Linked DNA regions of Homo sapiens: region 1 is linked to region 2. A link means that fine-mapping ties the variant in region 2 to the expression of a gene that starts in the linked region. Tissue or cell type: monocytes. Region 2 holds a variant in brackets; the other region holds the start of a gene. All regions are shown on one strand. Distances are between the middles of the regions.

Region 1 (5,000 bases), 59 kb before region 2:
TGCTGAACATACACTCATATAGCCTGACTTATGAGAAACCTCACCACCCAAAGCAGGTGAAAGCCTTTTTCTTTTCTAAGTGCCTCTGTTTATCCTTCGGTGACAAAAGATTTACTGTTAATTAAGGTATTTCAGAAATATATAGATTCCAGAGTAGAATAAAGCCTTTTCCATCAAATAACCAGTTACAAAAATAATATTAAGAATTAAACGGTTTCATCTAAAATTGCACCATCTCAGATGCTGGGGAAGTACATCCATTTTGTGACCATAGCATAGTCATCTCACCCAGCATTTTCTGAGAATGGGACAAAGTGTGCCAGGATGTGTAAAATGAAATTGCCATAGCTATGAAGTCCAATTTCCTCATTCAGTACCTTGAATTTATTTCAGTTTGGTATGGTAACATACCTCACACACACACACACACACCCATACTCACAAAAACAATCCTCAGGAGCAACACTTAAAAAGATTATACTACCTTAGAACTATCTGAAATGTATTTAGGAAAGAACTAGGGTGACAAGTTTGACCTTCCATAAATTCATCTTTTTTTTTTTTGACTGTGCAACCTCTAATTTCCTCTAATTTGGAGAAGGGAGGGTGGGTGGAGAAAGAAAAAAAGGTGAAAAACATCTAATTCAGTGTGTACAATCTCTCTCTTGTGTGTGTGTATATACATATGCGTGTGTGTGTGTGTGTGTGTGTGTATTTTTCCCCCTCCACCAAGACCTTGGAGGTCAATAAGAGGAAAAAATGGCTCACAAGACAAGGTTTCATGGCTAACCCAAGGGAACACCTTCACAGCTGAAGAATTTCAGCTCAGGGGCAACCTGGCTGGGAGTATCAGAGGCCACAGCATTATGGACCAAGAGCGCAGGCCGCACCACCAGCATCCCAGGCGCCTCTGCCGTGCGCATGTCCCTCTTATATAAAGAGATGCTTACAGTCCAGGTGCTTTTTCTTGGGGCCCATTACTTCATGAGTAGTGGCTTTGCAGACCGCTCTTGCTACAGCAGAGCCTGTAACGCTGTACTGAGCGGCGGCGATCCGATCCGTGAGCGTTTGGCCCGACATCTTCTGTGGTCGCGTCTACCGCCTCCTCTTCTGCAGGAAACAAGGGGAGACGGTCCGGCTTTAATCCGCAGACCCTACCCTCCAAGCACCCAGGCCTTGCCTCCTCCAGCCGCGCGGCGGCTCTCTCCTCCTCCATCCCCACCCTGGCACCACCTCTCGGAGCCAGCAACGCGCCAAGCCCCGCTCCTGCGATGCGGTCCAGGGAGTCTTGGCCGTGAGTAGGGCCGTCACGGAACCCCAGCGTGGGCTCCAGTCGCAGCATCGTGACACCGTCCCCATTCTCCCCCGGCCCCCACATAGGGCCAGACTCACCCCCTGGGGACCCCCCTGTCAATCAGCACTTTCCCCGCAACCTGACCCGCGGGTGCTGGACTAGCCACAACGTGCGTTGGGGTTATTCCCTGGGCGCCGCACCCACCGGTGCCCATCTCCCACCTCAGCAGACTTTCCTCCTAGCAGCCCGCAGGCTTCGGGGAATGCATCGGATACCCAAGCCCTGGCTGCCTCCCTCCTCCTCCTCGCGCTGCTGCAGCAAAGGGCTCGTCCTCCCTCAGTCGCGAAGGAGATTATCCTAGCGTTGCGCCATGTTATGCCCTCGCCTCCCCTTCCTTCCTCGCCGCCGGCTCCAAAGCCTCGCCGAGGCCCATCGCCCGGGCCCCTTCCCCCCGGTTCCAAATCCCTGCCGCAGGGGCCGCCCGGGAGCTCTGCGGAGGCGCCGGAGTCTTGGGGCGCCTCACCCTTCCTGGCTTTGGAGAGGAGCCGGGCTGACAGCGAAGCCCAGTCCCCCGCCCGCCCTGGAGCGCTCCGCGGAGCTGTCACTCGGCCGCTGCCCTTCTCCGCACCCTGGGATTATCCTCTGCGGATCCCCGCGAGACCCTGGCGCGGGGAGGGGGCCGAGTACGGCCGCGGGTACTCACCCCGCCCCTGAGCGGCGCCGCCCGCCGCAGGATGAGCGGAGCCCGGGCCGCCGAGGGAAGCCGCGCCGGTGGATGTGTGCGACCGCGCGTAGCCCCGGTGCCCCCGGGCGCAAAGTCTCCAGCCCTGGCCGGGCCCCGCTCCTCAGCTCCGCGGTCCCGGCGCCCACCGCCCCTGGCCCCTGGCCCCAGAAGCCAGTACCCGCCCGCCGCCGCCTCTTCTGCCAGCGCCGCCGCGTCTCTCTAGCGCTCCGAGCTGCGTCCCCATCCCCGCCCCCACCTCAGCTGTGGCTCCTCCGACGAGTCAGGTGACGGCGGCGGACAAACCCGGACGAGCCCTCGGCGGAGCGCCTCGCGGCCCCCTCCCAGCTACTCACACACACCGCCCCCCGGGGCCGGGAGCTTAAAGGCGAGGGGGCGCCTCGCGCAAGCATCCCCGGCAAGCCGGCGGGGAGAAGAAGGAGGCGGGGAGGCCGACACCCACCCAGCCAGCGGCTCTCCGCTGGGCGCCGGGCCGCCCCTCCGCTGCTGGCGCCGCACCCGGCACGCACTGGGCTCGCGCACCACGCACACCTGCCCGCCGACTGCGGGGGGAGCCCTGGGCGTTGGGGGCGTTGGCCAAGACGGGCGAGTGGGCTTCTCGGGTTCTACTCTGTGAAGGCCAAGGCAAGGGCGTCGTCGCGCGCTGCCTGGCGGAGCCCAGCCCCTTCCCCACACTGTCGCTGACACGCCCGCCTGTCAAAGGCTCCGAGGCCCAGATGAGCAGGGCGATTTTAAATGTCAGATCCTGCCGGCCATCCGCGACCGTCACCTGTGCGTCTTCAGCTCCTCAGGCTCCTCCGCTTGTCTCAGTTACAACTGGGAGCCCGGGTGGGCAGGTAATTCTAGCCACTTTAGTCTTAAACGGATACTGAGGTCTGCTGAAGGGAGAATAATTAACACAGCCGTTAATCGAGTCCCAGATTACCTTCGACAGTAATCATTTGCGTGCATAAAGAAAACCCTTTGTACCCTTAAGAAGTAATTTCTGCCAATTAAATATAGTGTTGGAACGTCCGTCAATTGTATGTCAAGTGTATATTCGAATAGTAAGCAGGAATTTCTAAACAGGGATGTGGAGTTGGTTAATAGCTTCACGTGTTGACATTTTCAAAGGTTGTTATTTATGTTCACCTTTTTTTTTAATTCTCACAGTAGCATGAAGATCAAAACTATATTTGTGAGCTTTCCTGGCATTTTTTCTCCTTGCTTCGGGTGGCTTCTGCTCGGCCTTGAAGCCATATATCGATACCTATCGATCTCAACGTTTTGTTATATATTCCTCTCTTTCACCTGGTACAGTGTTCAGTATGCAGTCATGATTTCCTAACTACTGAGACTGATTCTAGGACTAATTGGAAGCTTAATGACTAAAGAGAGACAGCTTAAGAGCACTATTGTCTCAAGTACTAGTCTTACCATATTTACAAGGGAAATAAAAACGCAATTCTATTAAAAAAACTTGTACTCCAGTTTTATAGCAGCTTAATATAATGGCCCCAAACTGGAGGAAAGCCAAATGTTATTCTACTAGTAAATGAATAAACAAAATATGGTATATCCACATAATGGAATACTACTTAGCAATAACAAGAAACAAACTAATACCATTCATGAATCTCAAATTCATTAGACGAAGGGAAAGAAGCTCTATCAAAAATTCTACTTATTATTTTGATTTCATTTATGTAACATTCTGGAAAAGTCAAAACTATAGAAACAGAAAACACATCAGGTGCCGAGTCAGGTGACGGTGGCATTGGGGGAGGGGACTGCAAAGGGGCAGAAGGAAACTTTTTGGAGAGATGGAAATGTTTTATATCGTGACGGTGATGATGATTATACAGCTGCATGTATTTCTCAAAACTCATCAATTTGTACACTTAAAATTGGCGAATTTTGTTGTTTGTTAATTATACCTCAATATAATCTGATAGAGTTGGGAGTGGCAATATTAATATCAAAGTAGGTTTTACAATAAGGAATATTAATAGCAATAAACAGGCACATTTCATAATGAAAAATTCATTAAGAGCATGGAACAATTCTACTTGTTTGTATATCTAAGAACAGAGCTTCAAAGTAGGACGAAGCAAAACCTAATAGCATTAAAAGGAGAAACAGGCAAATCCACAATTATACTTCAGGATTTCAGCACTTTTCTCTATGTAATAAATAGGACAAGTAGACAGGAAACCTGTAAGGGTATAGATGACTTGAAATAGCCCTGTAGGCCGGACGCGGTTGGCTCATGCTTGTAATCCCAGCACTTTGGGAGGCCGAGCCAGGCAGATCATGAGGTTAGGAGATCAAGACCATCCTGGCTAACACGGTGAAACCCCGTCTCTACTAAAAATACAAAAAAAAAAAAAAATTAGCTGGGCGTGGTGGTGGGTGCCTGTAGCCCCAGCTACTCAGGAGGCTGAGGCAGGAGAATGGCGTGAACCCGGGAGGCGGAGCTTGCAGTGAGCGGACATCGCGCCACTGCACTTCAGCTGGGGTGACAGAGCAAGACTCTGTCTCACAAAAAAAAAAAAAAAGAAAGAAATAGTCCTGCAGACCAACTTCACCTAATTGACATTTATAAAATAGTCCACCCAACAGTAGTGGAATACTTTCTTAAAGTGTGCATGGAATATTCTCCAGGATTGACCATACTGACTGATCCTAAGCCATGAAGCTAGTCTCAATAAATTTAAAAGGATTATAATCATACACATTATGTTCTCTTACCACAGTGGAATTTAACTAAAAATCGGTGACAGATAGATATATGGAAATCTCTAAATATTTGGTAATTAAACAACACATTCCAAATAACCCATAGGTCTAATTTTCTCATAAGAAAATTGGAAATTTATTTGAACTAAATAATAATGAAAATCCAACATATCAAAATTTGTGGGTTGCAGGCAAAGTGGTGATTAGAGGCAAATTTATAGCATTAAAATGCTTAGGAATGAAGAA
Region 2 (6,204 bases):
GCCATCTGGTCAGTTTCCAAAATCAAAGTCTTGGTGGGTTTCTGGAATAGCCTTCTAGTTATTCTCTAGCCTGTGTATGCCCCCCACCCCACCCCCACAATTTTTTTTTGCTTATTTGATCAGTTATGAAGTCGTTTTAAAGTACAAAAGAGGAATTAAATATCATTGCAAAAGATTTTCTGAGAGTATTCACACTAATTCCCCAGAGGAAATTCTAGTTATGGTTTAGAAAACTAGGAATCGTGTCATTTCTCCATTTAAGTGGATTTAAGTGCATTTAAGTGGATGGAAATGGGGAAATAATAGTGTGTAGGTGTGATAAGTGTTCTTTCCTTTTTGTACCAAACAAAATAGGAGAGCTGTGTCTGTGATCTAAGGATGTATTTGCTTATTTGTTAGATTTCTAAAAATGTGCTGCTGGGTATTTATAAAAATAAGCATTGTAATTAAACAAACTAAATGGTATGGCTCTGTTGAACTGTGAGTTTTGTTTTCACACAGAAATGACTGCAGTCCTATTTAGGGGAGGGGTAGAGAATAAATGAGTAGGTTGTCCAGGTAACAAATATTACCACTGTCTGGGAAAAATGACTGCCTCCATTAACTTAGCAGTATATGAAGTGACTTTGAAAGGATTAGCTACTGCAGCAGGTTGGAATTTTATAGAGACTCAATCTCTGTCTCCCTCACTTTTTCCCTCCGCCCCAGCTTTGACCTTCCATACTTACATTCCGGCTCCTTTGACCTCCCTGACTCCCACAGTCTTGCCAACACAGCTTAACTACATGCAGAAGAACACCCATCTCCCAACAAAATCCCCACAAAAACTCGAATGAAAACTAGATGGTAAAATAATTCAAATGGGCAGAAAATAAGACCAATAAAGTCTGTCTGAAGCGGTGTGATATGGTTTGGCTGTGTCCCCACCCAAATCTCAGCTTGAATTATCATTCCCATAATTCCTACATGTCATGGGAATTGTCCCTGTGGGAGGTAATTTAATCGTGGGGGCGGGTCTTTCCCACACTGTTTTCCTGTTAGTGAATAAGAGATCTGATGGTTTTATAAAGGGGAGTTCCCCTGCACACGCAATCCTGCCTGTGGCCATGTAAGATGTGCCTTTCTCCTCTTTCGCTTTCTGCCATGATTGTGAGGCCTCCCCAGCTATGTGACACTGTGAGTCCATTAAACCTCTTTTTCTTTATAAATTACCCAGTTTAGGGTATGTCTTTATTAGCAGCGTAAGAATAGACTAATGCAAGATGCTATAATGTTTCATTTGGGGTTGTTTAGAACTAGATGTGGGCCTTGGAGTGTGAGCTCCCTGGGGACTGAGGAGATCCTAGGAGTTAGAAAAAAATCATTGGAAAAATTGAAAGCAAACTTGAGAGTTTTTAGAGAAGGTTTCAAAACATGAAGAAGTAGTTACAACATAAATAACTTTGAGCCTCTGAACCAGGGATATGTAATTGGTGATAATTTTATGAACAAAGTTGATAAACGTTGTTAAAAAGTTTAACAATTTAACAAATTGTTAAACTGTAACAAAAAGTTACAGTTGAAATAGATTTAAGCAATGAAATGAATATGACCTGGAAATGGGGGTGAACCTGTAGCTCAAAGAGAAGAAATTTCGCTTTCCTATTAATAAGGAGGCTGGGAGAATTGGTTCTGATTTTCAAGGAAGATGCAAGTACACAGAAATTAGGAAAGGGCCTATGAAACTGCCATAAAATGCCATCACATTTGTCGACTTATGCCAAAAATAATGTATCGCTCCAAACTCATGAGGCTGTAACTCACGTGCTTTACAGGTAGTAAAATGTTTGTGCATCCCATACAACTGACTAAAGAAATGGGGAAAGGACAGTGTGAGAACACGAAGGATCATGCTCCAAGGAAACAGTCTCGTCAGGGGAATCTTCTGGTCTACTGGGTGTTAGACATAGAAGGTAAACTAGGTGAAACTGCTGAAAGCCTTTTTGCAGCTGTATTTTGCCATCTTATATGGCTGTGACATAGCAGCCAAGACAAAGATTGTTTACCTAGCTTCAAAGAAAGTCCAATTTGGTTGGCTGCAAGAATTCCATGTGTAACCTTGTGTAAGTGTTTTGACCTCTAGGGCATGATTTACAGCTTTGCCTTTTTTGTAGTCTTTGCATTGCCTCAGCCCAATAGGAATCCCCTGGGCCCTGATGTCAGCAGTCTAGGATTTTCAGACAAACAAGTGTTTCTTGGCTGTCACGAACCATGTTAAATTGTTCCCAACTGCGCTTCTGTGAAACCATGAAGCATTATATCAGACCATTAGATGTACTGATCCTCTGTCCCACCCCATCTTGCTTGCTGGTCTCTATGAAGCTGGTACTGATGTGCTCAGCTATTGTTCTTCCTACTGTGCCTT[C/T]CCTGTTGGGTAACCTGAATTCACAGTTTCACTTCCTTTCCAGAAACGAACCAGAAATATTTTGTTCATTTGTGGTGAATGAAGTGCCTGACGAGAAAGAGGAATGTAGCTTAATTCCAGTGTTGAATGTGGCTCTTGAGGCCAGTATATGCTAAAACTCAGAATAAGGATCCCTTTCCAATTCTTTCTCTCTTCTCATCCTTTGTGGTTAGTTATACTAGAGACAAATCAGTTGGCAGGGAGTCATTAAGGCTGGAGATTAAGCTACACTTCTAGGCAGGAGGATAACTGCTAATGACCCTCTAAATTCCACTTTTCTAGCCCTAAACACTAATTATTTTAAATATTTACTGTTTCATATATATTTACTGTTTAATATTAAATATTTACTGTTTAAAATATAATTATTTTAAAATAAAATTATTGTTTTGCTGCTTGCATGCTGGCAAGTGAAAGCACATCTAGGAGATCATGCAGGTGAGATGGGCCAGAGGGACCTCCAAAAGAAAATAGCCCAAGTTACATGTGTCCCTACCTTTGCTGTTGACCATAGACAGTGAAATCTATAAATCTGTGTGGAGCCTTCTCTGATTCTTGCAGAGTTTGGGCTCACACTGAGTTCATTAAAGCCTTGCTGATGGGCTCATTTTTTGCTAATCCCACTGTAGTTATATTTTTCTACCCTGCTCTTCTGCCTCAAAGCTACAGAAAGTGCTTGGGTGTCATGGAGGGGTTGCTCTTTGATCACTCTCTTCTCTTTGTCTATAGTAGGAAATTAACAAATGTTGACTGAATGTGCGAGTGAGTGAATGTTAGGGATTTCTGGACAATATCAGTCAAGGGAATGTGAAAGAGCAGAGCAGCCAAGGAAGGAAAATAGGGCTTGGAAGAATGGACTGGAAGACAGGTCCAACGGTAAACAGATTTGAGGAATACAAATGGATAAGGTTTTGTAAGGAGGGTTAGCAAGTTTGTAAAACAGTGCTCCCTAGATGCTAAAAATGAAGCCGTAACCTCTCCCAGCTTCTTCTCATCTGCTTGTGCACACCAATGGTAAGACATAGGGAAGAAGAAGTAGGTATTTGACTAGTACTTGTGTTGGGGGTGGGCTTAGAAAGTATTCAAGGGGGTAAAGCCACCAGACCTCTAGTCACTCTTCCTTTCACATCTTGAGTTTGTATGCATTGATTCTCTTTCCTTAGGACTTCTCAAGTCCATCTCTTCTCCATTCCGATGGCATGCCTTAATTCCAATCCTCACGTCATTTCTTACCTTGAAGCCTAGAGTGATCTTCTAATTCATTTCTTAGACTTCAGTAGTACCCGTCCAATCCACTGCCAACACTGCTACCAGAGAGATCTTTATAAAACAAAAATCCAATTGTATTACTGCCTTACTGAAAATTATTTAGTGGTCACATTGTCCTCCAAACTTGGGGGCTGCAAGACACTTTATGATCTTCCCTCACCTACCTCTTCAGCCTATTTCTTGCCAGGCCCCTAGCATTGCTGAACCACCTGCAGTCCCAGGGATTTACAGTGAATTTCTAACCTCTGTTCCTTTCTACAAATGGCTCCATCTGCCAGGAATCCTCTGTGTTCTTCCTCTTCATCTTTGCCAACCTCCTACTCCCATCACTGAGGTGACTCTTACTTATTCTTTTAGACATTGTTCAGGCATCATCTTACCTGAGAAGTCTCTCTGGAATCCCCATCTTCCTTTCCTCTCCTGGATGATTAGCTTCTTGAAAGTAGAGACTGAGGCTAGAATAGTAATGGGTACGTGGTGGGTATTCAGTAGCTATTTGAAAAAAGAAATGAGAGAAAAATAGAAGACTATACTGAGATATTGATCATTGCCTGCCCTGCTCATAGCCCTTTCTGTATCCATGTGATCCTATCCCTCAGCCTGAGTGGATTAGGACCATCAATGGCCTGGCTTGAAAAGACCAGCTGAGCCAATCAGATTTATTTATTGGTATTTTGGAGTTGGGGAATGAGAAACTGAGTGAATTAGAAAAGACAACTGGAGTTGAAGGTATGATGTAGAGTCAGGATATAGAGGCATGGTGGAAATGGAAATTATAGGAAGAAGAAGTTAGTTAATAGATGCGAATTGAGCAAATGCACACAGAAAAACAAAGATGTCATGAGAGAAAGGTCATATGAGAGACAGAGAGAGAGAGAGAGAGAGAGAGAGAGAGAGAATCTTCTGTTGTTCCTAACACTTTTTCTTGGGTGGGTTCCTGCAAAATCTGTTTTGTTTTGGGGGGTGATTTTTTTTTTTTGACAGTGTCTCACTTTGTCACCCAGGCTGGAGTGCAGTGAGCCATCTTGGCTCACTGCAGCCTTGACCTCACAGGCTGGAGTGATCCTCCTGCTTCAGCCTGCTAACTAGCTGGGACTACAGACACACGCCACCACACCCAGCTAAGTTTTGAATTTTTTGTAGAGGTGGAGTTTTGCCATGTTGCCCAGGCTGGTCTCCTGGACTCAAGGGATCTGCCTGCCTCAGCCTCTCAAAGTGCTTCTATTACAGATTTGAGCCACTGCAGCTGGCCTTTTTTTTTTTTTTTTCCCTTCTTCTTCTTTTTGAGTCAGGGTCTCACTCTGTCGCCCAGGCTGGAGTGCAGTGGCCTGATCTCAGCTCACTGCAACCTGCAACTCCATGGCTCAAGCAATTCTCCAGCCTCAGCCTCCTGAGTAGCTGAGACCACAGGCACATGCCACCATACTGAGGTAAAATCTCTGGATTTTAACATTAAATCATTATGGGAACTAATATGAGCAAATTTCTGTTCTGAGTATGTAAAGGAGTCTAAACTGAAATAGCAAGAGAAGAGAGAAAGGGAGAGAGGAAGAGAAGAGGGAAAGAAAAGAGCAAATAAGGCTGGTTCTAGACCACCAACTTCCCTTTTCCCCTAGGCTTCTGTTTGCTTGGGATTTACTCCATGCCAGAAAGGAACAAGGAAACCCATTCCCTCTCCACTAGCCCTGACCAGGGAGGAAGTCTGCCCAGGGTTTGACATCCATAATTTCTCCATGCCTATGGGCCCACCTTGGTCACTCACTGCTCCATAGCATTGTCATTGTGAATTATGCACAAATAAACAGAGGTCTGAAGAAACACCATAAATCCCTGGTGCTAACATAAAGAAATTAATTAAGAAAGTTAAAAATGTTAAATATCTTATTGAACCCCAAACACAGTTCACAAAAACAAAACTTCAGTAACAAAAAAAAATTCGGTCAAAGATATATTTTTGATCTTAAGAAATTGATTAATAAATGTTTTTAAAAATATGCATGAATTAAATATCAATGCTATCAAAAAAAGTTGCAAAATAAATGAGAGACAAAAATTATTTTGTTTCTAGTTATGTATCTGAACAATTGTTTTATTGGTTGCTTGTTTGGTTGAAACTTAATAATTTATTATGCAAAATGGACATGAGGATTTATAATGCCAAGAAATAGAACTCTGTTTTGCTCTTTTTTGGATTTCTCAAAAGGAATACCTTGAAAGAATGTCTTATAAGGGTGTTCAAAATATTCTGAGCTACTTATTGGTAAACAAAAATTTATATACTTGGATGAGATGCCAAAAAATTGAAAAAAATGAAGTCATATTTTTTCTTGTAGTGGGAAGTATGGCTAATATTTTAATACATGTATAGGCATTTATCATAATTGCTTGTTAGATATTTAATACATTTATCATAACATAAAAATGTATGATAAAGTGTTAGATGCTGGCACAAATTCATTAATTCTGTGTGATAGGTGTCATGGAAAGACTTT

Direction of the effects. Positions count from the first base shown, and alleles are read on the strand shown. Sizes are in standard deviations (SD) of each study's normalised expression.
In carriers of allele T in region 2, the expression in monocytes of the gene that starts at base 2,254 in region 1 tends to be higher than with C alone (large effect, 1.9 SD a copy in Fairfax 2014).

What was found. PIP is the estimated chance that this variant, and not a neighbour inherited with it, causes the effect.
Region 1: SNAP91 starts here. The variant in region 2 is fine-mapped to the expression of SNAP91 in monocytes (Fairfax 2014, PIP 0.95).

The regions. Positions count from the first base shown.
Region 1 is chr6:83,706,848-83,711,847 of GRCh38, forward strand. It overlaps SNAP91 (synaptosome associated protein 91), which reads right to left and starts at 2,254. Exons shown (of 30, transcript NM_001242792.2): 1 at 1,998-2,254; 2 at 951-1,110. The coding sequence starts at 1,080. It overlaps LOC105377879 (a long non-coding RNA gene), which reads left to right and starts at 2,595. Exons shown (of 3, transcript NR_136251.1): 1 at 2,595-2,872. RefSeq lists silencers at 1,223-1,517, 1,927-2,136, 2,467-2,526.
Region 2 is chr6:83,764,805-83,771,008 of GRCh38, forward strand. No RefSeq gene overlaps it. Among named protein-coding and RNA genes, the nearest start is that of SNAP91, 59 kb to the left of the region's middle. The variant C/T (reference allele first, on the strand shown) is at 2,405.